4 linked regions of the Homo sapiens genome follow. The gene in region 2 interacts genetically with the main gene of each other region. Each region holds a gene or a part of one and is shown on either strand. Other genes may lie near its edges.

Region 1 (8,112 bases), on a different chromosome or scaffold from region 2:
CGCTTGGGGCTGGCTACCAGGGCTGCCACATACAACAGGCTGGTTGGGTACCTCACAGCAAGTCCTCAACTCCTATAGATTAAACTGTGAATGGTGCCCCTGGAATGGCAGTGTGACCACCCTGTTAGCTGCTATTAACAATCACTATTAATAAATCCCATTCCTAGTCCTAGATGGAGCCTTCTCATCCTCAGAAACCACACTGGTTAAATCAGTGGATCTTAACTTTGGCTGCATATCGGCATCACCACAGGAAGTTTCAAAAATTCCAGTGCCTGAGTCCCACCACAGGGATTCTGATTTAATGGGTTTGGGGGGCGGCTTGGCTTTGGGGATTTTTAAAAGCTCCCTAGGTGATTCCTAGAGTCAGCCAACTTTGCAAACCATGGAGTTAAAAACCCAAAACACAAACTTATTTGCTTCGGTCCTGAAGGATCTCAGCTGACTGTAGTTGGCCTGGTTATTGTGAGCAAATCTGATTAAGGTCACAGTTCTTAGCAGCTGTGTGATCTTGGGATGGTCTCTAACCTCTGGGATGCTCCTCTGTAGAATTGTGATGCTGTGAAGATTGGATGAGCTAAAGAGCTGGGCATGGGGTGGAGGCCACCAGTAGGCGACAGCTATTGAGTGTCTTGCATGACTATAGGATGGCAAATAATTCTCAATATGCAGTTTATGGGACTGATGTTGTTTTTCCTGGGGTGGGGATAATAAGGGGTCTGAGGAAAGATTTGGAACCCCTTGCTTGGTTCCTCCCTGGTTCTGTTGGTGACCCAAGAGGTCCCAGAGCTCCTTGCCACAGGCTCCACAGGATGTTGGCCCCACACCAGGCAAGGCTCAGCAGAGATCACTGCTGCTCCCACGGAGAGTGCACCGGGCCACTGGGGCATGCATGGCTAATGCAGGGTGGCAGATTTGAAACCAAACACTGGTGCCTGCAGCCACAGGAGAGAGTAAGGAGAGACAGAAGGAGAGCTGCACTGATGGAGTCTCGGGGCCCAGTTCGTCTTGACAATAGCCATGGGACCCCAGGCTGTCTAAGGCCTCAGTGTCCCTTCCACTTGCCTCTCCACTGTTCTGGTAGTCATGTTTCTGTCTTCGATGGCATCAGTTGTAACAAATGACACATAAGCCAGTAAAGCAATGGTTAAAGCAGATGTTTTAGTGGAGACAGAGTGGGTTTGATTCATGGTGGCAATCCTTCCCAGCTGTGTTACCTTGGGCAAGTAGCTTAACCTCTCTGAGCCTCTATACAGCAAGGATAACAGCCTATTCATGGAGCAGTTTGGAGGGTGAAGTGATACAATGGCATGATGTGCTTAGCCCAGCGCCTGGCAGAGTGATGCTCACCGAAGACAAACTATGGTACTTCTGTCCTGAAGAAACCCTGTGGTCACCACTAGAATTTGATCTGGATCTCTAAATCACCCTTGGAGGCAGCCAGTGGTACCCTGTTTTATAGATGAGAAAACTAAGGCTCAGAGAGGCCAAGCTACTTGTCTCGATACACAGAGAGTAAGCAGCAAAGCCAGGACCTTGGACGCCAAATTCAATGCTCTTTCTACCTCTCCACTGTCTTCAAGGTGCAAAATGTCTTTTAGTTGACAAAGCAGGGTTATGTCCCTTTTCTCTCTCTAGATAGTCAAGAAACCCCAATGAAGAGGCTGTGTGAGCCCATTTTATAGATAAGAACATGGAGGCCTGCTAACTTGAGGACTCCTAGCCTACGTGAAATGCAAACTCTCACTGGGGAGCCCCAGCCTGGCCCTAGCAGCTTTGGGCTTAAGCTAGAGTCCACGGGCCTGTCTGGCCTCAGGCTGGTCTCTGTTTAGGAGAGGACCAGCTGGTGGCCTTCCCTCCTGTGCCCCCACTTCCTCATTACTGTTCAAGCTGCTGGGTTCCGAACACATTCAGAACCCTCTTGGTTCAGCATTTAATGGGATGCCAGGGCAGAGGAGAAGAGAGGCTTTCAAAATAACGACTGGCAAAGGAAAAACAGGCATTCAGTAAAAGTGACAAGCACGGTCACTGGATTTCCTGACCCTTCTGGCTTTTTTCCTCTCCATGGGGAAAGTGCCTATTTGTATTTCACTGGCCAGCAGCCAAAGAACAGTGTATCTCGGAGCCACCTCCAGATCTCCCAGCAGCTTCTGGTCGATGCTCGGAAGCCCCCAGCAGAGCTGCTTGTCCATTTGGATGCAATGACTCAAGGCTGACTTCCTGAACATTTTGCCTCAGGTCCGTTGCAACTTCCTACCTCGGAAGGAGAATGTTGGGTGGACATTTAGGATTTTGAACCAATTAAATAGCAGAGTCCAGGGCTAGACATGGAGGATACTTAGCAAGGTTAGTGGACAGCATTGTGCAGTTGATCTGGAACAAGCATCAGCAGACCTGGAATCCCTGCTGGCTCATTAGTGGCATGATGTCAGCCACTTTACCTGGCAGATGCCTCTGCAGGGAAAATTCCAGCAGGTACTCACCACCAACAGAACTAAGAGGGCCACTCAGGATCTAAGCCACCCAGAGATGCAGGCGTGGGGGCTGCCTTGAAGCTCAAAGCTACTTGGGTTTGGTAGCAGTTTCAAAAAGTGACACACCCAATCCTACAGCTCTTGATTTCTGGCCCAATCTCAGACTTGCCTTGTATTGCAAAGTCCTAAAGCCAAATTCACCAGAAAGGCAGGCCCTTCACACGTTAACCTGCGTGCACTATGTGCCATGCACTGTGCTAAGCACCTAGCAGCCATATCTCATGAAATATGAAATTCTTACGACAGACTGAAGAGGTGGGTACTGTTATTATCCTCTTTTTACAGTCAAGGAAACTGAAGTTCAGGGAAGTCATCTGATTTCCCCAAATCACACAGCCGGTGAAGGAAAGAGCTTGAATCTGAGCCAAACTCTGAAGCTGAAATCTGTGTTCTGTCTGTTGTGCTGAGAATTAAACCCCCATACTGTGTGATAATTGACTTAGGTGAGGCTATATCATGCATTAATTCAGATTCACCTGAGGATGCAGCAGAAAAAGATCAACAAGAATGCAGGGCTATGCCAGGGGGCTCGCTTCTTTGTCTCCTACCCTTTTCCGAAACCCAGGGTGCCTGGAGGCATCTCCCGTATCATTTTATGGATGCTGGGACATAGCCCGGGTACCTAAACTCAAAGCACTCAGGTCCACTGACAGCCCACTTCAGTGTACCGGGTCTGCCCTCCTTCCCTTCCACCTCCTCCCGAACGGCACCGCTCTCAACAGCAGATGAAACAGAACAGAGATGGTCTTACTTCTCAGGTCGAGTCCTTGGGAAGGGAAGTCAGGAGCGTGTTGCTGGGTTCCTCACTCCACCGGGAAGTCCCAGACTAGCAAGGAGGGCTGCCTCTAGAGGGCGGTTCTTAAACCCCTGGGAACGGAGGCTGCTGAAATGTGCCAACAAGTGAGACAGCCTTTGCATTCCTGTTTATTCTGGTATCAATAAAAAGGAACTGTTACTATAGTAACAGATATTCCACTTGGTGCACGGCCACTTCCACGATGCGGAACATCATGTCCAAGCCACACGCTTGAGAGGCACAAATAAATACCCATTTTGTCAGATTGATGAGGAATAAGAAACACGCCAAGCTTTGTTCTGAGCAAGGCGGCTCACGTAAAGGAATTTCCCTTGTTTCTTATGGGAGGGTCAGGCAAGAGTGGATTCCAGCACTTCCCCATGGGAGGGGAAGCCAAGCTTCCTGAGGCAGTGGTGTGGATTCTTCAGGAGAAAATGGCTCTGGGGGGAAAAGGGTGGGGTGTAAAGGGAGGGGAAACTGCTCAGCATTGGGTCAGTTCTTAATTATCCACGAATGGGTCAGAAACTCCGTACACAGCGTTTTCCTGATACCTTGAATGTCATTGGAACTTCACAGAGGAGCCAACGGAAGAGCGTGGGAGAGGGGATGCACCGTGTCTGGGTCTCAGCAGGCTCATGTGTTGGCCCTGGCTCCAGCACCAGCCCCTTCAGCAGCCACTCAGTGTCTCTGTGTCTTGGTTTCTGTGTTTGTCAAATGTGGAGCATACCAGGGTGGTTGGGAGATGACATGGATGAGATGACATTAGTGAAGCACATAGTCAAAGCTCAGCATATAGGACTTTTCTCCAAGAGAGACCTGGACTCTACGTGATCTGAGGCCAGAGCCCAGCATGGTGCATTTTGCCTGGCAGAATATGTGTTCCATAAGTAGTGGCTCAATGAATGAACATGTGAATGTAAAATATAAAAGTAGGCCAGGCATGGTAGCTCATGCCTGTAATCCCAGCACTTTGGGAGGCTGAGGTAGGCAGATCATTTGAGGTCAGAAGTTTGAGAACAGCCTGGCCAACATGGTAAAACCCTGTCTCTACTAAAAATACAAAAATTAGCCAGGGGTGGTGGCACACACCTGTAATCCCAGCTACCTGGGAGGCTGAGGCAGGAGAATTGCTTGAACTTGGGAGGCAGAGTTTGCAGTGAGCCAAGATTGGGCCACTGCACTCCAGCCTGGGTGACAGAGCAAGACTGTCTCAAAAAAACCCAAAAAACAAACAAACAAAAAAACCCAAGAAAAGTAAAAAATGTATGTAGATCCTTAAGGCCAGCCTGGATGCTTATAGATAATGGAGGCATTCTCCTAATTTCAGAATCAGCTTTCACTTGAAAAGCTGGAAGTGTTTTCTATCGTTTAGTGTCATCCTAGTTCCCCAGTGAGGAAGCTGGGGTCTACCAGTTAGACCAGGCCTCCACCCCAACTTTACTTTCTCATGGAGTCTTGGTTGGCTAGAAGGTGATGAGGCCTAGGACATGCATCACAGGTGAATGGAGGCTTTAACAAGGCAACCTTGTGTCTTCTTTGGCCTATATTATTTGTTCATTTAACAAACATTTATTTAATTCCTACTGTGTTCCTGGCACTGTTCTAAGTGCTGGGGGTACCATGTGAATGACACAGGTAATATCCCTGCTGTCAGGGAACCTACCTTCAAGGGGGACACACAGTAAAGAAGGGGACATTCAGGATGACGTCAGGCAGTGAGGAATGCCGTGATGAACGCAAGGCTGGGTGAGGTGAGAGCGGGTGGTGTTTTAGGGTAGCAGAATCACAAGGAGTCAGTTGTGTGAAGTCTGTACACATGGGAGAGTCTTCGTAGGGTGGGAAGAGCCAGTGGAAAGGCCCAGACTGGGTGGATCCTGGTGTGATGTAAAGGCAGGCTGGGTGCCATCTTGGGAGTGAGGGAGGTGGGAGACAGGGGTGGAGTGGGAGGGACAGGGCAGGCATGTCCAGGGAGTCTTGGCCACGCTGACCATTCTCGAGCCACTTAAACTAAGAGGGTCCTAAATTCTTGGGTATAAAACAATTTTCTGGAAACAATGTGTGGTCCCTTTTTTTCTTCTTCCCCAATTCTGCATTTCTTGAGGCACTATGAATGGTAGCCCCCTCAGCCTCCCACCCTGCTCTGCCTTAACTTCCCCAAACTCTCCTGGTAGAAGAGGACAGCTAGATTCTTGTCAAACCACTCTTTGCTGACCCTGGTTCCTTGCACACATCCTCCTGCTCTGCAAAGAAGTATTTTGAATATTTCCTAGGGTCTTTGGTGGCTCAGATGAACCAATCCCAGTGCCTTCTAACAGTTGGAGAGTAAGAAGGATCCTGGAGCGGGGGAACTTCTGACAGCTCCTGCTCATCCCCGGAGAAGACAGAAGCCCATCACCTGGTACACTTCAGAGGAACACGCACCTGACAGCCAAGGAGAACTGGGCAGTAGTCCTCGGATGTTGGGCGTCATTTTCCGTGGGCAGTTGGGAGTCACTGTGCTTCTCCCACAAAAACTCTTCTCACAGTCCAACTTGTATACAAACCCATCAGACTGCTAGCCCCAGGGCAGGTACCTACCTATCTTCCTGTCCCAGTACTGAGGGGCTCAATAACTATTGTTAACCTGAAGACACCGAAAACCTTGACAGCGCTGAGCTTGTTACAGCACCATCTTGCTGTGTGTCCATGTGCAGGTGCAACTGTACGTGAGATCAGCGGCCAACCACCACCCTTTCCCAGGCCACACTCCATCAGCAAGAGACTATGCTACACCCCAAGACGAGATGCAGCCAATAAACATGTCTATGTATTGACCTGAAAAAGATGTCTTCTACATATTCAATGAAAAATCATATGTAGTAGGATCTCTTTTTTTTTTCAAGATAAAAAAGTTGGTATATGTATAAAGAACTAGTGTGGAGGCAAATACACTAATCTGTTAGCAGAGGTCAACTCTAGATCAGTGTATCTCAAATACTATTACTAGATGTCATTTGAAATGAGTGCTAAAAATGCTCTTGCTTTTTTTTTTTCCTAGGGAGGAACCTAGGAATCTGGATTTTTTTTTTTTTTTTTTTTTTGAGACAGAGCATTACTCTGTTACCTAGGCTGAATGCAGTGGTGCCATAATGGCTCACTGCAGCCTTGACCTCCTGGGATCAAGCGAGCCTCCCACCTCAGTCTCCCAAGTAGCTGAGACTACAGACACATGCCACCACACCCAGCTAATTTTTTATTTTTTTTAGAAATGAGATCTCACTGTGTTGCCCAGGCTGGTCTTGAACTCTTGGCCTCAAGTGTTCCTCCTGCTTCAGCCTCCCAAAGTGCTAGGATCACAGGAATGAAGCCACCATGGAATCTGGATTTTAAACATACCTCTCTGGGGGCTCATTTATATTAAAGAGTTTGAGGACCATTGTTCTACAGCGTAAAATTACAGGCCCTTCTCCTTTGTCACTGCATTTCTGTGATGTTTGCGGTGTTAAAAGAAAAAAAAAGGCCCTAGCATATATTACTTTTGTTATCAGAAAAAGACTCTAAGAATTAAAAATGTGAGAAAGAGCAACATTTCCCAAACAACTGTAGTTAGTTAGGAATCACATCTGGCTCAGTTATGTCATCAGAATATGGGAAAACAGAGGCCCTCTGAACAAACAAGCCTTTGAGGCGTTTACTCCAGGTAATTGCATAATTCAAGCCACAGTCGCTGTCTCCTGCCTCCTTCTGTGTGGCTTTCCCTGGAGGTCTTCCTATTCTTCCAAAAGGAAGGACTCTGGGAAGCCAGGGGCCTGGGGATCTGCATACTTGCTCGGCCCCCTGGTGAGCTGGGGCATCAAAGGGGGAAGCCCAGGGGCTGGGCACACCCCTCCTGTCTTCCCTCCCATCCCCTTTTAACTCTGATTTCTTGGGAACCAGAGGAACCCAAAGGAAGGGGGACAGGGAAGACCAGGGGAGGCAGTCCTGACAGGGAGGTGGAGAATTTTCCTGCATCTATAGTGGGCTGGGCTGCAGTGTGCAGAAAATAACCTCCCCAAACAGCTTTTGTTTCATTTTTGCCCCCTTTCTCCAAGCCCATGGGCGCCTAGAACAGCTTATCTGGGCCCACGAACATCAAACAAGAAGTTTCCATGGCAACTTAAAACTTCCTCCTCAGCCCTGTATTCAGTCTAAATCTCCAAGGCCCCTTTTCAAGGCCTCAATGGGGTTTCTGAGCAGCCACCCACAAAACAGCCCTAGGATTAAACCGTGCCCCCCGCCTCTCAAACATGCTCTGCAGAAAGGACTCGGGGGTTGGGGGAGAAGAAGCTGTGCTGGCAGAAAGAACCTGTCATGGGATCTGTGGAGAGATTATAAAAGGAATGAGAGTCGCCTTTACAACAAGTTTGAACCGGGAAGAATTTACCCAGTTGAGGGATTTCAAGCGTGAAAATGGGAAAGTGAGAGGGGGTGGGGAAGAACTTAGAGTCTTGTTTCTGAAAGCTGGCTCTCCACCCAGCTGCAATTAGACATGGTTAATTTGGTCTCTTAGCTGCAGAAGGACCCTGGGGTACCCCCATCCCCAGTACATTTTAATTCCCTTGTAATCAGACAAGAAGCACAGTGAGTGAATCTATGGATGGTGAGAGGATGTGAGAGGGAGCATGTGTGTGTGTGCGTGTGTGTGTCTGTTTCTCTGTGTGTGTGTGTATGTGTGCGCGCATGCATGCAGGAGAACCTGGGCAGACCACAGCTGTCAAACTGAGCAAACTTCATGATTCCTGGCAGCATAGTTGCTAGATGTAC
Region 2 (7,496 bases):
TGTGACGACTTTCTAAGACATGACGAAAAATATTTGCTGAGCTATACCTTCATTTAAAAAGCTCTGATTTTCATTACAGTCTAATGTTATCTTCATTTCTATTTCTGAAGAACAATTATGGAGACTTCCTGTTATTTGTACACTTACCTGTTGATAATGGGCTAAGGCCAGGTGCTTCAGGAAGCCTTTCCAGAAGTTTTCTCTGTATGATTGGTGTACTATGAAAGCAAAGTGATTCACATTTCCCAGTTCTTGCCCTAGTATTAATTGGAGATATCACTAGAGGCTCTTGAGGCTCACTGCAGGGGCTTTTTTGTATACCATCTTTTATTGGCTTTAAGAAGTTCTCAAAAGCCAATGAAGGCAGCTCCTCTACTGGTGATGAGGGTCTATCATCTCCATTTAATGCTTTGGAATCTGGGGATATTGGTTGTTGCCAAGGGGGAATTACTGGAGAATCAGGGGAGCTATAACTAATGTAATAGTTATCATCATCATCTTCATCTTTTTCGGGATCACTTGCAGAGGCAACTGGTGGCAGCATCTGACTTTCACTTGCAGTTTGACTACATCCCGTGGTTGGTGCTTGTAAAGCAATCTGAGAATTATCAACATCCTCCTTGGTATGTGCTGTAGTGGGGAGTATACATGGACTTACATCCATTTTTGGAGGCACTACAGGTTTGTCATCTGGGTTAACTGAAGAGCTAAAGTTCTCAGCAGATTTTACAACTCCAGTTGGCTTGGTTTTAGGCAGTTTCTTGGAACGTTCGTATTCTTCTTTGGCTTGAAGCCACACTTGAACCAGTTGTCGACTTGGGGCACATTTGCAAGGCATAATCACAATTTTTTTATCTTCAACCATCTTAGGGCTATTACTTGACCCTTTATTGACAACTCCTTGGCCACTGCGAAGGGGTGACCCTGGCCTTGGATTCTGAGTCATTGCTGAGAATGCTGTTTTCCAAAGACGAAGTCCTTCCAAGGAAAAGTCTCCCTCAAACTCAGCCAGATCATTTGCAAGTCGAGTTTCTACCATGAGGAGCCGTCCACCAATCTCCCTATAATAACATATTTTAGAACAACTGTTTTGTTTCAAAGAGCAATTACCAAAATATTTAACTCCATATCCTAGATAAAGTCCCTTTTGGAGTCTCAAAAATGTCCATGTCTATCTTCCCTGCCCCCTCTATATTGTGCAGGTACATTCTATCTTTAGTCTCAATATGCTTTTCCTCACAGGTATATGACTACTACTTAATTTCCTTTGGAAGGTACCATTAATCTTAGGGAGAGAAGGTATTTTTTGTTTTATTTTAATGCCCCATGAAGCCTTCTGTCCTTCAAGGAGATGACACAAACTTTTCAGATTCCTTTCCTCTCCTAATCTTAAAATAAATTTTCCATTATTACCACATATGAATAAAAACAATGAATTTATCATTCAAATACTATGTCCCTGGATATTATTCATAGCTTCTTCCTATATTCTCCAGTATCTGTAGTTTAACAAAGCCAGTCAATTCAAATGAATCTTCGTACTCTCAAATTCCCTTAAACATTAAAAAAAATACCAACTGAGGTAAATTACTCTAATTCTTTCTTCCCATTCCATGGCAGGGATTAACACTGACATAACTTAGGAGCTGGCAGAGCCCACAGGATGCATGGCTTAAATGTTACCAATGCATGAATATGTGGGAAATCACTAATGAAAACAGTCTGGTTTCATTTCCAATAGTTATAAATATTAAGTGAAACCTCTGTCTTTCTCCAATCCCTTGATACTATTTCTGCTTACTACAGCAACATAAAATAATTCTACTTCTTCATGTTAACTTTATTATGGATATAAAGTTAATTCATAGTTTTTTCAATCACTTCTCTTAGGGCATGATTCCCCAAATGTCCCCATCACTCTCTATGTAAAATCCACTAACTGGATCATGTTTTCAGATTTGAAGCTGAAAGAAGAGCATTAGGGCTACTCTGTCTCCTTTATATGAAAAGACTTAAGCCCCTACTAGTTAACTCCATAACCAGCATCCAGCACTGTCCCTGCATCCACTCTTGGCAATGTGAAAAAACAGAAACAGAATTAATGCTGTTGAAGGAAATGAATACACATACCAAGTGACCATACCCAACTCTAATACTAAGGATAGAGAAGTCATAATGAGGTCAAGAATAAAAAATGGTGAGGTGTCGGGAGGCTGAGGCAGGAGAATGGCGTGAACCAGGGAGGCGGACCTTGCAGTGAGCCGAAATCACGCCACTGCACTCCAACCTGGGTGACAGAGCCAGACTCTGTCTCAAAAAAAAAAAAAAAAAAAAAAAATGGTGAGGTGTGGTGAATTCAGTTTTCTTACATATTGTCAGCAGCATGGTAATTGCTATAACCCACTGGGAAAAAAAATCTCCTAATATGTATCAAGAGCCTTAAATTTTTCAGTAATCCTACTTCTAGGGCTATAAGGAAAAACTCCAAAATACAAGAAATGCTTTAAGAAGAAAATGCTAATATCTTCTTAACATACATAATAATATACATAATATCTATAGTGGCAAAATTGCAAACAACCTTTCTGTCCAATAATATATACATGATGCAACATATGCAGCGATTAAAATATTCAAGAAACTCATTTGGAAAATGTTTACAATATAATGTTAAGTGAAAAATTTGGATATAATACTGTGACTATAGTAAGATCACACTTCACAAAACAAAACAAACTAAAAACTATACTTTTTAAAAAAGAAAACAGAATACACATCAAAATATTATGGTGGCTGTTACTACATGGAAAAATGATGTAATTTTTATTTTTTCTTCTTTCATACTTCCTAAATTTTCTATATTGAATATACAGTTTCATTTTTTTTTTTTGAGACAGTCTTGCTGTGTCACCAGGCTGGAGTGCAGTGGTGCGATCTCAGCTCACTGCAACCTCTGACTCCCTGGTTCAAGTGATTCTCCTGCCTCAGCCTCCCGAGTAGGATTACAGACTCATGCCACCATGCCCAGCTAATTTTTGTATTTTTAGTAGAGATGGGGTTTCACCATGTTGGCCAGGATGGTCTCGATCTCCTGACCTTGTGATCTGCCCACCTTGGCCTCCCAAAGTGCTGGGATTACAGGCGTGAGCCACCGTGCCCGGCCTACAGTTTCATATTTCAAAAATATTTTTCAAAAATGATTATTTTTTATTTTAGCTGCAGGACAAGTGTCAAAGTTGGACAATAACAACAACACAAAGGTAATGACTAGCACATAAAGTTTGGTAACTAAAAGTAAATATACCATAATCACTACTAATAACACCAAAGTCCCCAAAATGATGGAAACTAACGTCTAAAGAACAGATTTCATATGCTCCAGCAGTGAAATAAAGAGTTCCATGTGGGTACTAAACAAAACTGTGTGTTGAAAAGGGGCTGGGAGGTGGACATTTCTACCTTTCACTTCAAGTCATTACAGGAGAGAACTTTTATTCTGCATTTCTGATAACCTTTTCTCACCCCTTTATTAAAAAAATAAATTTTATTGTGTATATTTAAGGTATAAAATATGATATTAGTATATAGTAAAATGGTTCTTACAGTGAAACAAATTAACATATCCATCATTTCACATTCTCAACCCTTTCTTAAATGGATTCCTATAGGAATTATTGTGAATCTGCTGGGTAAAAGCCTGGCATTCACTGTCGTGTTTTTTTAATTTAAACTTTTTTAAAAAGATATTTTAACAGCTTTAGGTTGACAGCAAAATTGAAAGGAAGGTACAGAAGTTTCCCATATATCCCTTGTGCCCCCACACATACATGGCCTCCCTCATTATCACCATCCCCTACCAGAGTGGTACATGTGTTACAATCGATGAACCTATGTTGACACATCATAATTGTCCAAAGTCCACAGATTACATTTGGGTTTGTTCTTGGTGTGGTACTTTCTATGGCTTTGAACAAATGTGTAATATTCATATTGTATCTTTCTTTTTTTTTTTTCCCACTGGAGTCAGGAACATGGTACTGCCACAGGTCAGTGCATACATGCAGTGTGTCCTCTGCTGCTTTTCCTATCTCTTTCCAAGATTTAGACTAAGGCAGGGCCTGCCTTAGCAGTTCCAGCCATCCTCTTCTGCTTCTGAATGGATGGCTGAAATGAACTGCCTGCTCTGCAACTGGTTAAGTATATGAGATCATGGACACAAGGGCAGGAACAAGAGCCATCATTTAAACTTTCTGGATTAAGCCACATTACCCAATTTAGCTTTCATCAGTTATGTCCTAACTTGGTGATGAAAGTGGTATACACCATAACTACTTAACTACTGATAAATAAACCAGTACTCTGATTTCTATTTTGCTATTTGCTGTGTGTGTGCGTGCGCTCACATGTTTGTCTATCAATTCCCTGAAGAGATTTTTTTTTTGAGATAAAGTCTCATTCTATTGCCCAAGCTGGAATGCAGCGGCGTGAACACAGCTCACTGCAGCCTTGACATCCTGGGCTCAAGTGATTCTCCTTCCTTAGCCTCCTGAGTAGCTGGGACCACAGGTGCATGCCACCATGCCCAGCTATCTTTTTTTTTTTTTTTTTCTGAGATGGAGTTTCACTCTTTATTGCCCAGGCAACAAAGTGCAGTGGCGTGATCTCAGCTCACTACAACCTCCACCTCCTGGGTTCAAGTGATTCTCCTGTCTCAGCCTCCTAGGCAGCTGGGATTACAGGCACCTGCCACCATGTCCAGCTAATTTTTGTATTTTTAGTAGAGACAGGGTTTCACCATGTTGGCCAGGCTGGTCTTGAACTCCTGACCTCAGGTGATCTGCCCCCCTCGGCCTCCCAAAGTGCTGGGATTACAGGCGTGAGCCACTGTGCCCGGCCTAATTTTTTGTAGAGAGAGAGTCTCACTATTTTGCCTGGGCTGGTCGCAAACTCCTGGGCTCAAGCGATCCTCCCACCTCGGCCTCCCAAAGTGCTGGGATTACAGGTGCACACCACCATACCCAGCCACCTGAAAAAATTCTTAAAAGAAAGGAGAATGGAAACCAAAGTCCATTTGCTAATAACTGCATAAACTATAATAACAATAACAATATAATACAAGATATTGAAACCACATGAAAAGTGGTTTATAATAGAAACAACTTACAATAATCTTCACTTAGAGATATATCAGAGGAATACTTAAAACACATACATGCTCATTTTCAAAACACTTGAAAATGAAGTTCTTTTAAAATGGTATAAAAGTTTAACATTTAAAAATTAAATACCATTTAAACAATGATCATTGTAATCCTTTTAAAGTATCATGACATCTTTACAGTGAGCACCTCTAATCTTTAATGAAGACATAGTGTTAAATAATGGTAGATCCAAGTCAACTTAAATAAATTTCTCTAGGTGTAACCATCCAGTTAGTTTTTGAATTTTCTTAGTAAGTCTGTAATTAGAAATACTTTCCACAATGATATACTTACAAATACGGTATCACAGAAAACTAGCAGTCAGGTAACCAAATGTTGCATACATTCTTTTTTTTTCAATCCCCATAGCATAATTTTATATATCATAATAATTCAGAGTGACCCAAGGGAAAAAATAACTGATTACCTGGGCTTTTCTGGTACATCAGAAGGATTACTGCAAAATGGTTCCTGGTAAATAGTCTCAGACAGGTCATGATCCAACAAAGTTGCCATAATTTCTTCCCTACTTGGGGGGGACATAAGTGGTTTCAGAATGTTAGCAGTTCGAGGGGTGAAGCTGCCATTTTTAGATTGTGAAGGAGAGCTAGTAGATCTTGGTGAACTATCAGGAGTTGGTGTCAACATATCATTGTTTCTTGAAACATACAGTTCTAAATCTTCACAGGCCACGTCTACAAGTTCACCATCAGGGGAGGAGAGTATTGCAGTAAAAGAGGTATTGGCTGAGTCAAGAGACTGTCCCATTTCTTTTCTGGTGTGACCTTGAATCCAGTCTGAATTGTTTGGCTGTGGGAGGCTAAGAAACACTTCTTTGCTTACTGAACTCCTATTCAATCTAGATTTTTCACTTAGACAGTCTTCTGCCTGCTGAACACAGAAAGAATCCATTATTGAGTTAGACCGAGTTGTTAGAGGATGAAAGCTATTTTTCCACTGGTTGTGGCGACGATTCTCATTGCTATCTATGGTTGACTTCTCAAAAATTTCAGGACTTAAAGTACCAGATCTAATCCATGAGGCTGAGTCTGTGGTATGATGCTTGTCTTCATCACATTTCTGGTTGTCATGACTTAAAAACTCATTTTTTTCTATAGCTTGTCCTGGAAAAAGATCCTGAACAGCATCACTTAGGAACTTCTGAGGCAAATTCTGATCAGCTGGGACAAACTGACTTCCAGAATAAAAGCTACAAAATCCAGTCTGACCTATTGTGTTAATATCAAAATTATAATTATGTTCAGGAGATAAACTATCTTCAAGTGAGTAACAACTTTCAAAGCCTGGATCTGAAAAAAAGATGGGACTATCATCTGATACAGAGTTATCCAACTGGCTAGAGTTTTGTAAATTTAAAGAGTCTACTTTGAGAAGTTTGGGGATTTTTTCTTTTTGTTTTGTACTTCTGGGAGTTCGAGGTTTTCTTGGGGACGTTACCGATCGTGTCCGTTTATTTGCTTTGTTATGCTCAAGGGAACCAGAAATATTTTTATTTGGTTGATGTTTATTGGATAATGGGTCTTGTGTAGTATTTGCATTTTGTGCTTTCTGCTGTCTTTTTTGTAACAATTCTTTTAGAACTGCCAGTCCAGACTGTCCTTCACCAAATGCTGAAGGTGTTGACACATTTCGATTTTTACACTGAGAAAGTGCTTTGGTTTGTGAAATTGCTTCTGATAACGACCTCGGTTTTACTCTTTCAGGTTTAAAATTTGACATATCTAAAATAAAGCCCCTTTGCTTTTGCTCCCATGCTATTTGTTTGATTGGACTTCTCAAGGAAGTTACAAAGCAATTATTAGGCATTTGGCTTTCCTCTGAAGCTGTATTTCCCGGAGAACAAGTTTCACTGTGCTTTGACTGTTCCGCTATGCACACAATCTGCTGCTGACTGTCTTTGCAATGCAAAAAATTAGGGGTATATGCTTGGTCCAGCTTTGATTCTAGGGAATTGCGATATTCACTTAACTTTCCGATTGATGACAAATAGTTTCTTTGTATATTATTTGCATTATCTTCTATCTTTGAGGACATACCAGAAGATATCTGTGTATTCTGTGCTACCTGAGATAAATGATTGGAAAGGTCAAATATATTTTTTTGAATTAACGTTGATTCCTTTAGAGTAAACATAGCACTTTGATTATGAGGCCTTTGAACATTAATTTTTGAGACTCCAGGTCCTATAGAATTACAAACAACTGATGGATGCAAATCATCTCGTGAACTGGGGAATGTCTGCAAATCTACAGACTTCTTGCTTTCTAAGAAAGA
Region 3 (7,496 bases), on a different chromosome or scaffold from region 2:
TACACAAAAATAACTCAAAATGGGTCAAAGAGCTAAAATCATAAAACTTTAGAAGAAAACATAGGGGTAACACCTCATAGGCAATTGATTTAGACAATGGTTTTTTAGGTATGACACCAAAAGCATAAGCAATAACATAAAAAACAGAAATCAAGTGAACTTCATCAAAATTTAAAACTTGTACTGTATAGTATCCAGAAAGTGAGAAGACAATCCATGGAATGGGAGAATATATTCACAAAGATTGTACCTGATAAGAAACTAGTATCCAGAATATTAAAAAGAATGCTTACAACTCAACAATAAAAAGACAACCCACCGGGTGTGGTGGCTCACGCCTGTAATCCTAGCATTTTGGGAGGCCGAGGCAGGCAGATCACCTGAGTTCAGGAGTTCAAGACCAGCCTGGCCAACATGGCGAAACCCTGTCTCTACTAAAAATACAAAAATTAGCCAGGCGTGATGGTGGGTGCCTGTAATCCCAGTTACTAGGGAGGCCGAGGCAGGAGAGTCGCTTGAACTCAGGAGGTGGAGGTTGCAGTGAGCCGAGATTGCACCACTGCACTCCAACCTGGGCGACAGAGTGAGATTCCATCTCAGAAAAATAAAATAAAATAACGCAGTTTTAAAATGAGAAAGGACTTGAGGCCAGGCACAGTAGCTAATGTCTGTAATGCCAGCACTTTGGGAAGCCAAGGCAGTCAGATCACCTGAGGCCAGGAGTTCGAGACCAGCCTGGCCAACATGGTGAAACCCTGTCTTTACTAAAAATACAAAAATTGGCTGGGCGCGGTGGCTCACGCCTGTAATCCCAGCACTTTGGGAGGCCAAGGCAGGCGGATCACGAGGTCAGGAGATAGAGACCATCCTGGCTAACACGGTGAAACCCTGTCTCTACTAAAAATACAAAAAATTAGCCGGGCGTGGTGGAGGGCGGCTGTAGTCCCAGATACTTGGGAGGCTGAGGCAGGAGAATGGCATGAACCCAGGAGGCGGAGCTTGCAGTGAGCTGAGATTGCACCACTGCACTCCAGCCTGGGCCACAGAGCGAGACTCCGTCTCAAAAAACAATACAAAAATTAGTTGGGCATGGTGGCGAGCTCCTGTAAACCCAGCTACTCCCAACTACTAGGGAGGCTGAGGCAGGAGAATGGCTTGAACCCAGAAGGCAGAGGTTACAGTGAATCAAGATAACGCCACTGCACTCCACCCTGGGCGACAGAGTGAGACTCCGTCTCAAAAACAAAAAAATAAAAAAAACCTCATACACTGCTGGTGGGAATATAAAATGATGCTACTACTTTGAAAAGCAGTTTGGCAGTTCCTCAAAAGGCTAAACATAGAGTTACTATATGATGAGCACTCTCACTTCTAAGGTATATGCCCAGAAGAACTGAAAACATATATCCATATAAAAATTCATATACGAATATTCATAGCAGCATCATCCATAATAGCAAAAAAGTGGAAACAGTCTAAATTTCGATCAACTGATGAATAAACTAAATGCGGTATATCCACACAATAGGGTATTATTCAGCCATAAAATGTAATGAAGCACTGGTACACTCTATAGCATAGATGAACCTTGAAACATGCTAAGTGAAGGAAGTCAGACACGAAAGGCCACATGTTTATTTTTATAAAATATCTAGAACAGGCAAATCATAGAGACAGAAAATGGATTATTGTTTCTAGAGGCTGGGGGAAGAGGAGGATTAGAGTGGCAGCTCACTGGTATGGAGTTTCTAGGTAGATGGAAATGTTCTGGAATTAGATAGTGGTGATGATTGCACAACTCTGTAAATATACTAAAATCCACTGCATCATTTACTTTAAAGGGGCAAATTTTATGGCTTGTGAATTACATTTCAATAAAAAGAAGATGAGGAAACCTAGGATATGTCACAATCCCATGCCACAAACTACTTACACTTCCAATATAAAAACTATATCAACAATAGTTTACATCACGTTCATTGCTTGCTAAAGTAAGGTCATGAATGTATCAAAATATTTTATAAAAGTTAAAATTTAGGAGATCCATCATTTCTCTTTTCAATCCATCACTGATTCATTCAATATATATTTATGTGTATGCCAGGCTCTTCATCAGGTAAAGTGTTTAGGAGAGATATAAAGATAAAACTGATGAGAATTCTGCACTTGAGCTACAGCATACTTTCCAAGAATTACAGCATGAGATATAAAATGAAAAGAAGGCTTGGAGGAGATTCACACGAAATAGTACTGTTCAGGAGAGGGGGCGATAATTCCAATGGAAGAGATAACTGACTTCATGGAGGATAGAAGGAGATGGTATTTGAACTGCCCTTGAAGTATGGTTATATTTTGGGGATGTGGAGATGTGGGGTAGGGTGATATGCTGGGGTTCCAGATGGTCCAGAAATATACAATCACCAGAACCAAAGATCCAGAGGTAGGAGATATGAGCTGTTCAATTTGGCTGAGCTAACAGTGTTTGGAGTGGGATCTTGAAGAAGCTGAAAATGAAGATACCAACTAGACAGTCAGAGAAAGACTTCCAATGTTTGACTGAACTGCAATTTTATTGTGTATGCATTGAAGAATCTTTTTTTTTTTTTTTGTATTCTCTAAAGATTTTTAAAATATTTTAAGTTCTGGATACAAGTGCAGGATGTGCGGGTTTGTTACATAGGTAAACGTGTCCCATGGTGGTTTGCTGCACCTATCAACCTATCACCTAGGTATTAAGCCCCACATGCATTAGCTAGTTATCCTGATGCTCTCCCCGCTACGGCCCCTGCATCAGGCCCCAGTGTGTGTTGATCTCATCCCTGTGTCCGTGTGTTCTCATTGTTCAGCTTCCGCTTACAAGTGAGAACATGTGGTGTTTGGTTTCCTGCTCCTCTGTTAGTTTGCTGAGGATAATGGCTTCCAGCTTCATCCATGTCCCTGCAAAGGACATGATCTCATTCCTTTTTTAAAAAAAAAAACAAAATTATTTCCATAGGTGTTTGGGGAACAGGTGGTATCTGGTTACATGCGTAAGTAATTAAGTGGTTACTTGTGAGATTCTGGTGCACCCATCACCTGAGCAGTATACACTGAACCCAATTTGTATTCTTTTATCCTTCACCCCCCTCCCACCCTTTCCCCTAAGTCCCCAAAGTCCATTGTATCCTTCTTATGCCTTTGCATCCTCATAGCTTATCTCCCACTTATGAGTGAGAACATACAATGTTTGGTTTTCCATTCCTCAGTTACTTCCTTTAGAGTAATAGTCTCCAGGTTGCTGTGAATGTCATTAATTCATTCCTTTTTATGGCTGAGTAGTGTTTAGGTGAGGTTATTTGTAAGTAATTAATATTGAGTAAATAAGATTCATCCATAGTGGCAAAGCCACATAACTTCTAAGTATCTTAAACTATATCTAAATGGTACCAAAACATGCAGTCAATTCTAAAAGCTCAGCTAATGATATTTCATAATATAGGAAAATATTCACAACATATTTTTGTGTAAAAAAAAGCAGACTTCAAAATGGAATATGCATTATGATTCCAATCATGTAAAAGCTATACATGAACACATACAAAGATTAACAGATATAAACAAATGGAAGAATGAATGGAGAGATAGATGATAGACAGATTGAGTGGTGGTGGAGAATAACAGATTTAAAAAGAAATTGTGCCTTTCTATATTTTCAAAACCATTTAAATAAGTATTACCTTTGGAGTTAGAAAATGATATGTATTTTAAATCCATAATTCAACTACTTATCTATATGATGTCAAACTGGATTAGGCTGAATTATCAGCAAGTGAATAAAACAGTTCCTTCATCCATGGAGAAACATCCATTTATGACATTCTTGGAATTCCTCTTGTTAGAATTCTTTATGAATTTAAAATAGAAACATGGCCAGACTCAAGATTTCAATACAAACATTACTTTTTCACGTTCAGTAATAACCAATTAAAAGAATTAATGAAAAATCTGATTCACTGTATCACCAAAAGCTGTAATGGCTGCACTGCACAGTATTCCATGGTGTATATGTACCACATTTTCTTTATCCAGTCTATCTTTGATGGGCATTTGCTATTGTGTCTTTGCTATTGTGAAGAGTGCTGCAATGAACAAAAATGTGCATGTATCTTTATAATAAAATGGTTTATATTCCTTTGGGTATATACCCAGTAATGGGATTGCTGGGACAAATAGTATTTCTAGTTCTAGATCTTTGAGGAATAGCCACACACACTTCCACAACGGTTGAACTAATTTACATTCCCACCAACAATGTAAAAGTGTTCCTACTTCTCCACAGCCTCGCCAGCATCTGTTGTTTTTTGACTTTTTAATAATCACCATTCTGACCGGCATGAGATGGTATCTCATTGTGGTTCTCCTTTGCATTTCTCTAATGATCAGTAAGGTTGAGCTTTTTTTTATATGTTTGTTGGCCACATAAATGTCTTCTTTTGAGAAGTGTCTGTTCATGTCCTTTGTCCACTTTTTGATGGGGTTGTTTTTTTCCTTGTAAATTTGTTTTAAGTTCCTTGTAGGTTCTGGATATTAGACCTTTGTCAGATGGATAGATTGCAAAAATGTTCTCCCATTCTGTAGGTTGCCTGTTCACTCTAATGATAGTTTCTTTTGCTGTGCAGGAGCTCTTTAGTTTAATTAGATCCCATTTGTAATTTTTGCTTTTGTTGCAATTGCTTTTGATGTTTTTGTCATGAAACCTTTGCTTGTGCCTATGTCTTGAATGGTATTAAATAGATTTTCTTCTAGGGTTTTTATAGTTTTAGGTTTTACATTAAGTCTTTAATCTTGAGTTAATTTTTGTATAAGGTGTAAGGAAGGGGTCAGTTTCAATTTTCTGCATATGGCTAGCCAGTTTTCCCAGCACCATTTATTAAATAGGGAATCTTTTCCCCATTGCTTGTTTTTGTCAGGTTTGTCGATGATCAGATGGCTGTAGATGTGTGGTCTTCTTTCTCTGGTCTCTATTCTGTTCCATTGGTCTATGTGTCTGTTTTTGTACCAGTACCATGCCATTTTGGCTACTGTAGCCTTGCAGTATACTTTGAAGTTGGGTAGTGTGATGCTTCCAGCTTTGTTCTTTTTGCTTATTGTTGTCTTGGTTATACGGGCTCTTTTTTGGTTCCATTTGAATTTTAAAGTAGTTTTTTTCTAATTCTGTGAAGAATGTCAATAGTAGTTTAATGGGAATAGCAATGAACCTATAAATTACTTTGGGTAGTATGGCCATTTTCATGATATTGATTCTTCCTATCCACGAGAATGGAATGTTTTTTCATTTGTGTCCTCTCTTATTTCCTTGAGCAGTGGTTTGTAGTTCTCCTTGAAGAGATCCTTCACATCTTATTAGCTGTATTCCTAGGTATTTTATTCTCTTTCTAGCAACTGTGAATGGGAGTTCATTCATGATTTGGCTCTCTGCTTGTGTATTGTTGGTGTATAGAATGCTTGTGATTTCTGCACATTGATTTTGTATCCTGAGACTTTGCTGAAGTTGCTTATCAGCTTAAGGAACTTTTGGGTGGAGATAATGGGGTTTTCTAGATATAGTATCATGTCATCTGCAAACACAGTTTTACTTCCTCTTTTCCTATTTGAATACCCCTTATTTGTTTCTCTTGCCTGATTTTCTTGGCCAGAACTTCCAATACTATGTTAAATAGGAGTGGTGAGACGGCATCCCTGTCTTGTGCCAGTTTTCAAGGGGAATGCTTCCAGCTTTTGCCCATTCAGTATGATAATGGCTGTGGGTTTGTCATAAATGGTTATTATTTTGAGATATTTTCCATCAATACCTAGTTTATTGAGAGTTTTTAACATGAAGCAACGTTGAATTTTATTGAAGGCCTTTTCTGTATCTATTGAGATAATCATGTGGTTTTTGTCTTTAGTTCTGTTTATGTGATGAATTATGTTTCTTGATTTGCGTATGTTGAACCAGCCTTGCATCCCAGGGATGAAGCCAACATTCCAAACATTTTATTTATTATTTATTTATTTATTTATTTTTGAGACAGAGTCTCGCACTGTCGCCCAGGCTGGAGTGCAGTGGCAAGATCTCAGCTCGCTGCAAGCTCCACCTCCCAGGTTCATGCCGTTCTCTTGCCTCGGCCTCCCAAATAGCAGGGACTACAGGCGACCGCCACAACGCCTGGCTAATTTTTTGTATTTTTAGTAGAGACGGGGTTTTACATGTTAGCCAGGATGGTCTTGATCTCCTGACCTCGTGATCCGCCCGCCTTGGCCTCCCAAAGGGCTGGGATTATAGGCGTGAGCCACCGCACCCGGCCTCCAAACATTTTAATCTCATAACAATGCATCACTTGGGTTAACTAGGTTGAGATAAATATAAACTGTCAATTTTTTTTCCCCTCACATAAAAGTCCAGAGGTAGGTAATTAGGGCTGACACAGTGATTCCAGTGATTCTGCTCCTTCGTGCCCTCATCCAACAAGGCTTCTTGCTGCTCACTACCCAGCTACCCCTACGTGTGGCCCGTATCTTCATGGTTCAAGATGGCAGCTAGAGCTGCTAGGTAGTTAAGATCTCTCTCACACACTTTCCTTCTGTCATAATTAACACAGGGTTTTAGCTCATGAGGCCAAGCATACACATTACTTCCCACTGGCACCCCTATGTAATATTAAATGCAAAGATACCCTCAGGAGTCCTGTGCTCAAAACAAGTACAAAATAACTTTTTGTTGTTGTTTGTGGTGCTGGTGGTTTTATTTATTTATTTTTTCTGAAACAGGGTCTCACTCTGTCTCCCATGCTGAAGTGCAGTGGTGTGATCACAGCTCATCACAACCTTGACCTCTCTGGGCTCAGGGGATCCACTCACTTCAGCCTCCCAAGTAGCTGGGACTACAGGAACACGCCACCACGCTCAGCTAAATTTTGTCTTTTTTTGTAGAGATGGAGTCTTGCTATGTTGCCCAGGCTGGTCTCAAACTCCTGGGCTCAAGTGATCAGTCCACCTCAGCCTCCCAAAGTACTCAGATTATAGGTATGAGCCACCATGGCATCAAAATAACTTGGAAAGTAGGAATAATTGCTTGTTGTTCCTGAAAACTGTCTCTTCGACACTTTTCAGACTCTGTTACATGATCATGACAAAATATACACAAATAGACATACAGATACACATCAGTTAAAACCTCAAGAAATAGAAAAATAAATAAATCATAAAATATTTAAAAAGTGGTATTCTGACACACTGCCCAGAGGTACCCCTGTTCAGCAATTTTAAAAAATTTTAAAAATAGCCCTCTCCCCCTCCCTCTCTTCTCCCTCTCCCCACGGTCTCCCTCTGATGCCGAGCCGAAGCTGGACTGTACTGCTGCCATCTCGGCTCACTGCAGCCTCCCTGCCTGATTCTCCCGCCTCGGCCTGCCGCGTGCCTGCCATTGCGGGCGCCGCCACGCCTGACTGGTTTTCGTATTTTTTTGGTGGAGACAG
Region 4 (7,496 bases), on a different chromosome or scaffold from region 2:
AGGTTCAAGCAATTCTCCTGCCTCAGCCTCCTGAGTAGCTGAGATTACAGGTGCCCACCACCACGCCCAGCTAAATTTTTTTGTATTTTTAGTAGAGATGGGGTTTCACAAGGTTGGCCAGGCTGGTTTTGAACTCCTGACCTCAGGTGATCCACCCGCCTCAGCCTCCCAAAGTGCTGGGATTACAGGAGTGAGCCACCATGCCCAGCATTTTCTTTCTTTTTTTTTTTTTTTTTGAAACGGAGTCTTGTTCTGTCACCCAGGCTGGAGTGCAGTGGCGCAATCTCGGCTCACTGCAACCTCCATCTCCCGGGTTCAAGTGATTCTGCCTCAGCCTCCCAAGTAGGTGGGACTACAGATGCGTGCCACCACGCCCGGATAATTTTTTGTATTTTTAGTAGAAACGGGGTTTCACCATGATAGCAGGATGGTCTCGATCTCCCAACCTCGTGATCTGCCCACCTCGGCCTCCCAAAGTGCTGGGATTACAGGCGTGAGCCACCGCACCGGGCCTCCGGTATTTTAATTATATCTGCAAAGTCCCTTCATAGCCTGGGCAATGGTCCCTAGATTAGTGTTTGAATAAACAGAATCTTGGCAGAAGGGCAGCTTTTGAATTCTGCCTACCACAGTTCCTTCGTTTGTACAACGGGTCTAACAACACCCCCACTCTTTGTATGTAATGCCATCGTAACTCAGCTTCTGTGGCACTCTGAGAATCTGTGTTCAGGGGTCCCAAAACCACCCACAGGTTCAGTGATTCCCTGGAAGAACTCAGAACTGAGAAAAGTTTTTATACTCACAGTTTATTACAGTGAAAGAATATAGATTAAAATCTGCAAAGGGCCGGGCACGGTGGCTCACGCCTGTAATCCCAGCACTTTGGGAGGGCGAGGTAGGCAGATCACTTGAGGTCACGAGTTCAAGACCAGCCTGACCAACATGGTGAAACCCTGTCTCTACTAAAAATACAAAAATTAGCCAGGCGTGGTGGCTGGCGCCAGTAATCCCAGCTACTTGGAAGGCTAAGGTAGGAGAATCACTTGAGCCCAGGAGGCAGAGGTTGCAGTGAGCCGAGATCCCGCCACTTCACTCCAGGCTGGACAGAGTGAGACTCTATTAGAAAAAAAAAAAAAAAAAAAATCTGCAAAGGGCCTGGCATGGTGGCTTACGCCTGTAATCCTGGCACTTTGGGAGGGCAAGGCGGGCAGATCACTTGAGGTCACAAGTTTGAGACCAGCCTGGCCAACATGGCGAAACCCCGTCTCTACCAAAAATACAAAAATTAGGCATGGTGCCAGACCCCTGTAATCCCAACTACTCAGGAGGCTGAGGCAGGAGAATCGCTTGACCCTGGGAGGCAGAGGTTGCAGTGAGCTGAGACTGTGCCATTGCACTCCAGCCTGTGTGACAAGATCAAAACTCTGTCCAAAAAGAAAATTAGCCAGGTGTGGTGGCATACACCTGTAGTCCCAGCTACTCCAGAGGCTGAGGCACAAGAATCCTTTCAACCCAGGAGATAGAGCTACATTAAGCCAAGATCACGCCACTGCACTCCAGCCTGGGCAACAGAGCAAGACTCTGTCTCAAACAAACAAACAAATTCCAAAAACATAAAATGCGCAAAGGAAGGGCATCTGGGGAAGGGTCCAGGAGACACCAGGTGCGAGCTTCCAGTTGTCTGCCTCCAGTGGAGTTGCACAGACAACGCTTAATTCTCCCTGCAGTGTGTGACAACACGCACCGTGTACTGCCAACCAGGGAAGCTCACCTGAGCCTTGGTGCCCCAGGGTTTTTATTGAGGGTTTGTCATATAGGCAGGGCTGACGTAGTTACTCAGTCTCCAGTCCCTCCAGAGGTCAAACTGATACCACGTGGCCCAAGACCCCAACGATAAATCGCATTGTTAGAATGAACTGTATGGAAAATTATCCAGGCGTGGCGGCGGGCGGCTGTAATCCCAGCTACTGGGGAAGCTGAGGCAGGAGAATCACTTGAAACTAGGAGGCCGAGGTTGCAGTGAGCCAAGATCGCACCATTGCACTCCAGCCTGGGCAATAGAGCAAAAACACCATCTCAAAATAAATAAATAAATAGAATGAACTGTATTGGCCGGGTACAGTGACTCATGCCTATAATCCCAGCACTTTGGGAGGCTGAGGCTGGAGGATCGTTTGAGGCCAGGAGTTCGAGACCAGCCTAGGCAACATAGTGAGACCCTATCTCTTTTTTTTAAAAAAAAAAAAAAAAAAAAAAAAGAATGAACTATACAGTGTGGCCCAAGGCCCCCTGCTAAATAAAGACACTCTTCAGGCAGGACATTTCAAAGGCTTAGAGATCACCTCCCAGGAGCAAGTCAATGGGCCAGTCCTTTCATCGGAATGTGCAGGGTTTGGACAACACTAGCCTACTGAGCTAGTCCTTACTGCTTAGCACCCCAGCTTCTATGACACCTACTGGATTCCCTTCCTGAGGGTTTCAAAGACTCCTGGAGATGTCTCTGAATTTGGCTGTCACAGTTGTTACTTGTACCCCAGATGCCACTCAGTTCCCTGAAGACAATGATCCCCCAGATTTCTCAGCCAGGAGCCCCTCCACCTCTTGTCCTCAGTGGGTGCCAGGCCTCATCCTGGAGTTCCACAGCTGAGCCAGGCTCTCGGGGTTACGGAAGGTCAAGAGGGTGTGGGGACAACAATGGAAGAGTGATAACAGTGGCAGCCCTTTGAGCAGATGCGGGTCTCAGGAGAACATAACGCGCTTTCTTTTCATAGTTCAGCTCACTTTCTAAGCACACTGAGCTTCCTTTCCAGCAGGCTAAGGGGCTGCAAAGGGGGTACAGATTAACCTCATTCTTCAGATTCTCAAAAATGGTGTCACCATTCATTGCTGGAGACTGGGAGAAAGGGGGCAAGTCCATCTCATTCTCTCTGTCTCTGTCTCTCTCTCTCTCTTCCCTGTCCATCTGTTTCTCTCTCCCACCCACCCCTCTGTTCTCTCTGCCCAGAAGAATCTCTATTTTGGTTTTGGTTTTGTTTGTTTTGTATTGTTTTGAGACGGAGTCTCGTTCTGTCGCCCAGGCTGGAGTGCAGTGGCGCAGTCTCAACTCACCACTGCAGCCTCCACCTCCCAGGTTCAAGCGATTCTCATGCCTCAGCCTCCCGAGTAGTTGGGATTACAGGCGCACGCCACCACGCCCAGCTAATTTTTGCATTTTTACTAGAGACTGGTTTCACCATGTTGACCAGGCTGGACCCTATCCTCTTTCAAGCCCCCCACCCCAGGCATTGAGGGCAGAGCCAACTACCTGCCTGAACCAATTAGCATATTAAACGTAAACCCAGTTAGCATATCCAAATAGCAGCCCACAGTGACATTCTGACTGTCAGAATGTGGATTGCTTGAGCCCAGGAGCTCAAGGCTTCGGTGAACAAAGATTGTGCCACAGCCTGGGCAACAGAGTAAGTCCCTGTCGATCGATAGATAGATGATAGATAGATAGATAGATAGATAGATAGATAGATAGATAGATAGATAGATAAATTTTTAAAAAAAATAATAGGCCAGGCACAGTGGCTCATGCCTGTAATCCCAGCACTTTGGGAGGCCGAGGCAGGCAGATCACCTGAGGTCAGGAGTTCGAGACCAGCCTGGCCAACATGGTGAAACCCTGTCTCTACAAAAATATAAAAATAGCCAGGCAGATGTCTGTAATCCCAGCTACTCAGGAGGCTGAGGTAGGAGAATCGCTTGAACTCTGAAGGTGGAGGTTGCAGTGAGCCGAGATCATGCCATTGCACTCCAGCCTGAGTGACAGAGCGAGACTCCATCTCAAAAATAATAACAATAATAAAAATAATAATAAATGCTCTGGCCCCAAAGTGGCACATTACATGGTGCACACCCCATTAGCAAGGACTCATCACATGGCCCTGCCAACCACAGGAGGAACCCCCCCATGTACTCAGGTAGGAGGGCCAGGAAACACCGTCAGAGAGCTTTAATGACTCACCCCATGACTGGGGTGAGGGACGAGGGACTGGCTGCAGGCCAAGGGCATGTCCGTGGCAGTGGAGACTTGGGAAAGGGGAAAAGACCTCCTCTGAGCCACGCACAGTGGCTTTCATCTGTAATTCCAGCACTTTGGGAGGCTGAGGTGGGAGGATCTTGAGCCCAGGAGGTCGAGACTGCAGTGAGCTATGTTTGTGCCACGGCACTCTAGCCTGGGCGACAGAGCAAAACCCTGTCTCAAAAATCAAAATAAAACCAAAACCAAAACTTCCTCTGTTGGGGATGCTCCAGGGCGTCCCAGCCTTGAACAGATGGGTCACTGCAGTAATAATCCTATGGCAGACACTGTCCCAAGGCTGCACGCACGTTACTTTGATCATCAAACAACCAGGTGATAGCCAGGCATGGTGGTGCGTGCCTGTAGTCCCAGCTACTCAGGAAGCTGAAGCGGGAGAATCTCTTGAACCTGGGAGGCGGAGGTAACAGTGAGTCGAGATCACATGACTGCACTTCAGCCTGGGAACAGAGAGAGACTCTGTCAAAAAAAAAAAAAAAACAGGCCAGACGCGGTGGCTCACGCATGTAATCGCCAGCACTTTGGGAGGCTGAGGAGGGTGGATCACCTGAGGTCAGGAGTTTGAGACCAGCCTGGCCAACATGGTGAAACCCCGTCTCTACTAAAAATACAAAATTAGTTGGGCGTGGTGGTGCACACCTGTAATCCCAGCTACTCGGGAGGCTGAGGCAGGAGAATCGCTTGAACCCAGGAGGCAGAGGTTGCAGTGAGCTGAGATTGCACCATTGCACTCCAGCCTGGGCAACAAGAGTGAAACTCCATCTCAAAAAAAAAACAAAAAAAAAACAACCAGCCAGGCGCGGTGGCTTACGCCTGTAATCCCAGCACTTTGGGAGGCCGAGGCGTGTGGATCACCCGAGGTTAGGAGTTCGAGACCAGCTTGACCAACATGGTGAAACTCCGTCTCTACTAAAAATACAAAAAATTAGCCAGGCATGGTGGTGCATGTCTGTAATCCCAGCTACTCGGGAAGCTGAGACAGGAGAATTGCTTGAACCCAGGAGTCGGAGGTTGCAGTGAGCCAAGCTCGTGCCACTGCACTCCAGCCTGGGCAACAGAGCAAGACTCTGTCTAAAAAAAAAAAAAAAACACACACACACACACACAACAACCAGGTGAGGCAAGTACTCTTGCTATCATCTCCATTTCACAGATGGAGAAACTGAGTTACTAAGTGGTAGAGTAACCTAAGTCATGCAGCCGATAACTGGGAGACAAGATTGGGACCCAGGTCGCCCAGCTGTTCTCCATGCCGGGCTGTCTCCTGCACAGCTGCTCCATGGTCCTGGCCCCACCGAAAACCAGAGCCCACAAGGTCATTCCAGCAGCACTGCCCAGGGCCTCCTCTGGGCCAGGCCGTTGGGGAACTGGAGACCCCATGGGGACCAGAAAGATTGGGGTCTCGTTCTCGGGAGCCTATGGCTTTGCAGCTGACCCAGAGTCCAGCTGACACCCAGGCAGGCAGTCAGGGTCTGTCTACACCCCCATTGCAGGAGGAGCCGACAAACAGCAGATGGACGCTGAGCTGCGGAAGGAGATGATGGCGATTTGGCCCAATCTGTCCCAGAAGACGCTAGACCTGCTGGTCACACCTCACAAGTGTAAGAGCTGAGCCCAGCCCTGGGATCCAATCCACCAGGACAGATGGAGGGGGAGGGAAAGGGGAGGCCTGGGGAGAGTGTTGGCCTGGGCTGGTATACACAGGGACCCAGGACAAGGGCCCCAAAGAGGCCTGCCCTTGGTGAGCTCACCGTGTGTGTGCCCCCAGCCACGGACCTCACCGTGGGGAAGATCTACGCAGCCATGATGATCATGGAGTACTACCGGCAGAGCAAGGCCAAGAAGCTGCAGGCCATGCGCGAGGAGCAGGTGCGCTGTTCGCCGCTCTGGGGACATCTGGGCTGGGGACAGTGGCTTGCATGTCACCACGGGAACCAACTGGAATATGAGGGTGGCTGAGCCCCAGGGCAGGTCCCTGAAAAGTAGGGGCTGTGCACAGCAGCTCACACCTGCAATCTCAGTGCTTTGAGAGGCCAGGGCAGAGGGATCGTTTGAGACCAGGATGAGACCACCCTGGGCAACACAGTGAGACTCCATCTCTACAAAATAAAACATTAGCCAGGCATGGTGGTGCACACCTGTAGTCCCAGCTATTTAGGAGGCCAAGATGGGAGGATCACTTGAGGCCAGGAGTGGGAGACCAGTCTGGGCAACATAGAAAGACCCATATCTCTACAAAAAAAAAATAAAATTAGCTGCATGTGGCGCCATGCACCTGTGGTCCCAGCTACTTGGGAGGCTGAGGCAGGAGAATCACTTGAACCTGGGAGGTGGAGGTTGCAGCAAGCCAAGATCAAGCCACTGCACTCCAGCCCGGGTGATAAGAGCAGGACTCTATCTCAAAAAAAAAAAAAAAAAAAAAAAAAAAAGTTCTTGCCAAGGACACATCATGTGGATTCATTCTTCATTCAGCTGCTCCACCAACACTTATTGAGTATTACTGTGTGCAGGGCGCTGTTCTCAGTCCTCGGGGATGCACCCATGGGGAAAATAGGCCAGAATCCCTGCCCTCAGGGAGCAGACATTCCAAGTGGGGAAATGCCAATGGTAGCAAATGACTGAATCGTGCAACATCCAGCAAAGAGAAAGAAAGTGTCGTGGGGGAAAGTGGAGAAGAATCCAGAAGATAGGAGTATCCAGGGGAGGAGGGGATGCGGTGGGAAATGGGTAGTTGGGGAGCCTCCCTGAGAAAGTGACATGTGAGCAAAGGCTTGAAGGAAAAGGGGAGAGGGAGTGAGCTAAGCAATACCTGGAAGGGTGTTCCAGGCAGAGGAAACAGCCAGTGCAAAGGCTCTGAGGCTGGACCGTGCCTGGGTTGTTTGGGTAACAGCAAAGAGGCCAGTGTGGTGGAAAAGAGCAGGGAGGAGACAAGGGCAAGGAGGTGACAGGGCAGATCCTTCAGGGCCATGGGAGCTGCAGGAAGGACTCTGGCTTTTTCCCCAAGCAAGTGGGAGCCATGGAGGGTTCTAAGCAAAGGAGGGATAGGACCTGACTCAAGTGCTCATGGGCGCCCTCTGGTGGCTCTTGTGGAACAGTGGGGTTGAAGGTAGGAGCGGGAGACCTGGGAGAAGGTGCCTGCAGTGAGAGATGAGGACGTGGGACCAGGCTGGGGCTATGACTTGGGTGGAGGAGTGAGAAGTGGTCCAGTTCTGCGTGGAATTGGAAGGGTCTAGATGGATGAGACCTGAGAGAGTGTGTGTGTGTGTGTGTGTGTATACTGGGGATGTCGCAATGCCTTCTGGGTACCACCGTCCCACCACCCCACCCTTGTCCACACACTGCTCTCTGCCCCATTCCCCAGGACCGGACACCCCTCATGTTCCAGCGCATGGAGCCCCCGTCCCCAACGCAG

The links.
Region 1: changes in REV3L (region 2) and FAM107A impair growth when combined (synthetic growth defect), as found in Homo sapiens cells (one large-scale study listed by BioGRID).
Region 3: changes in REV3L (region 2) and CFLAR impair growth when combined (synthetic growth defect), as found in Homo sapiens cells (one large-scale study listed by BioGRID).
Region 4: changes in REV3L (region 2) and CACNA1A impair growth when combined (synthetic growth defect), as found in Homo sapiens cells (one large-scale study listed by BioGRID).

The regions. Positions count from the first base shown.
Region 1 is NC_000003.12:58,574,024-58,582,135, forward strand, and holds the start of FAM107A (actin-associated protein FAM107A), read right to left. Parts: upstream 3,369-8,112; 5' UTR 3,286-3,368; intron 792-3,285; exon of another isoform or gene 1-791. UniProt on the Homo sapiens protein: Stress-inducible actin-binding protein that plays a role in synaptic and cognitive functions by modulating actin filamentous (F-actin) dynamics. Mediates polymerization of globular actin to F-actin. Also binds to, stabilizes and bundles F-actin.
Region 2 is NC_000006.12:111,366,968-111,374,463, forward strand, and holds part of REV3L (DNA polymerase zeta catalytic subunit), read right to left. Parts: coding exon 5,629-7,496; intron 1,062-5,628; coding exon 148-1,061; intron 1-147. UniProt on the Homo sapiens protein: Catalytic subunit of the DNA polymerase zeta complex, an error-prone polymerase specialized in translesion DNA synthesis (TLS). Lacks an intrinsic 3'-5' exonuclease activity and thus has no proofreading function.
Region 3 is NC_000002.12:201,166,792-201,174,287, reverse strand, and holds part of CFLAR (CASP8 and FADD-like apoptosis regulator), read right to left. Parts: 3' UTR 1-7,496. UniProt on the Homo sapiens protein: Apoptosis regulator protein which may function as a crucial link between cell survival and cell death pathways in mammalian cells. Acts as an inhibitor of TNFRSF6 mediated apoptosis.
Region 4 is NC_000019.10:13,212,690-13,220,185, reverse strand, and holds part of CACNA1A (voltage-dependent P/Q-type calcium channel subunit alpha-1A), read left to right. Parts: intron 1-5,577; coding exon 5,578-5,685; intron 5,686-5,852; coding exon 5,853-5,953; intron 5,954-7,445; coding exon 7,446-7,496.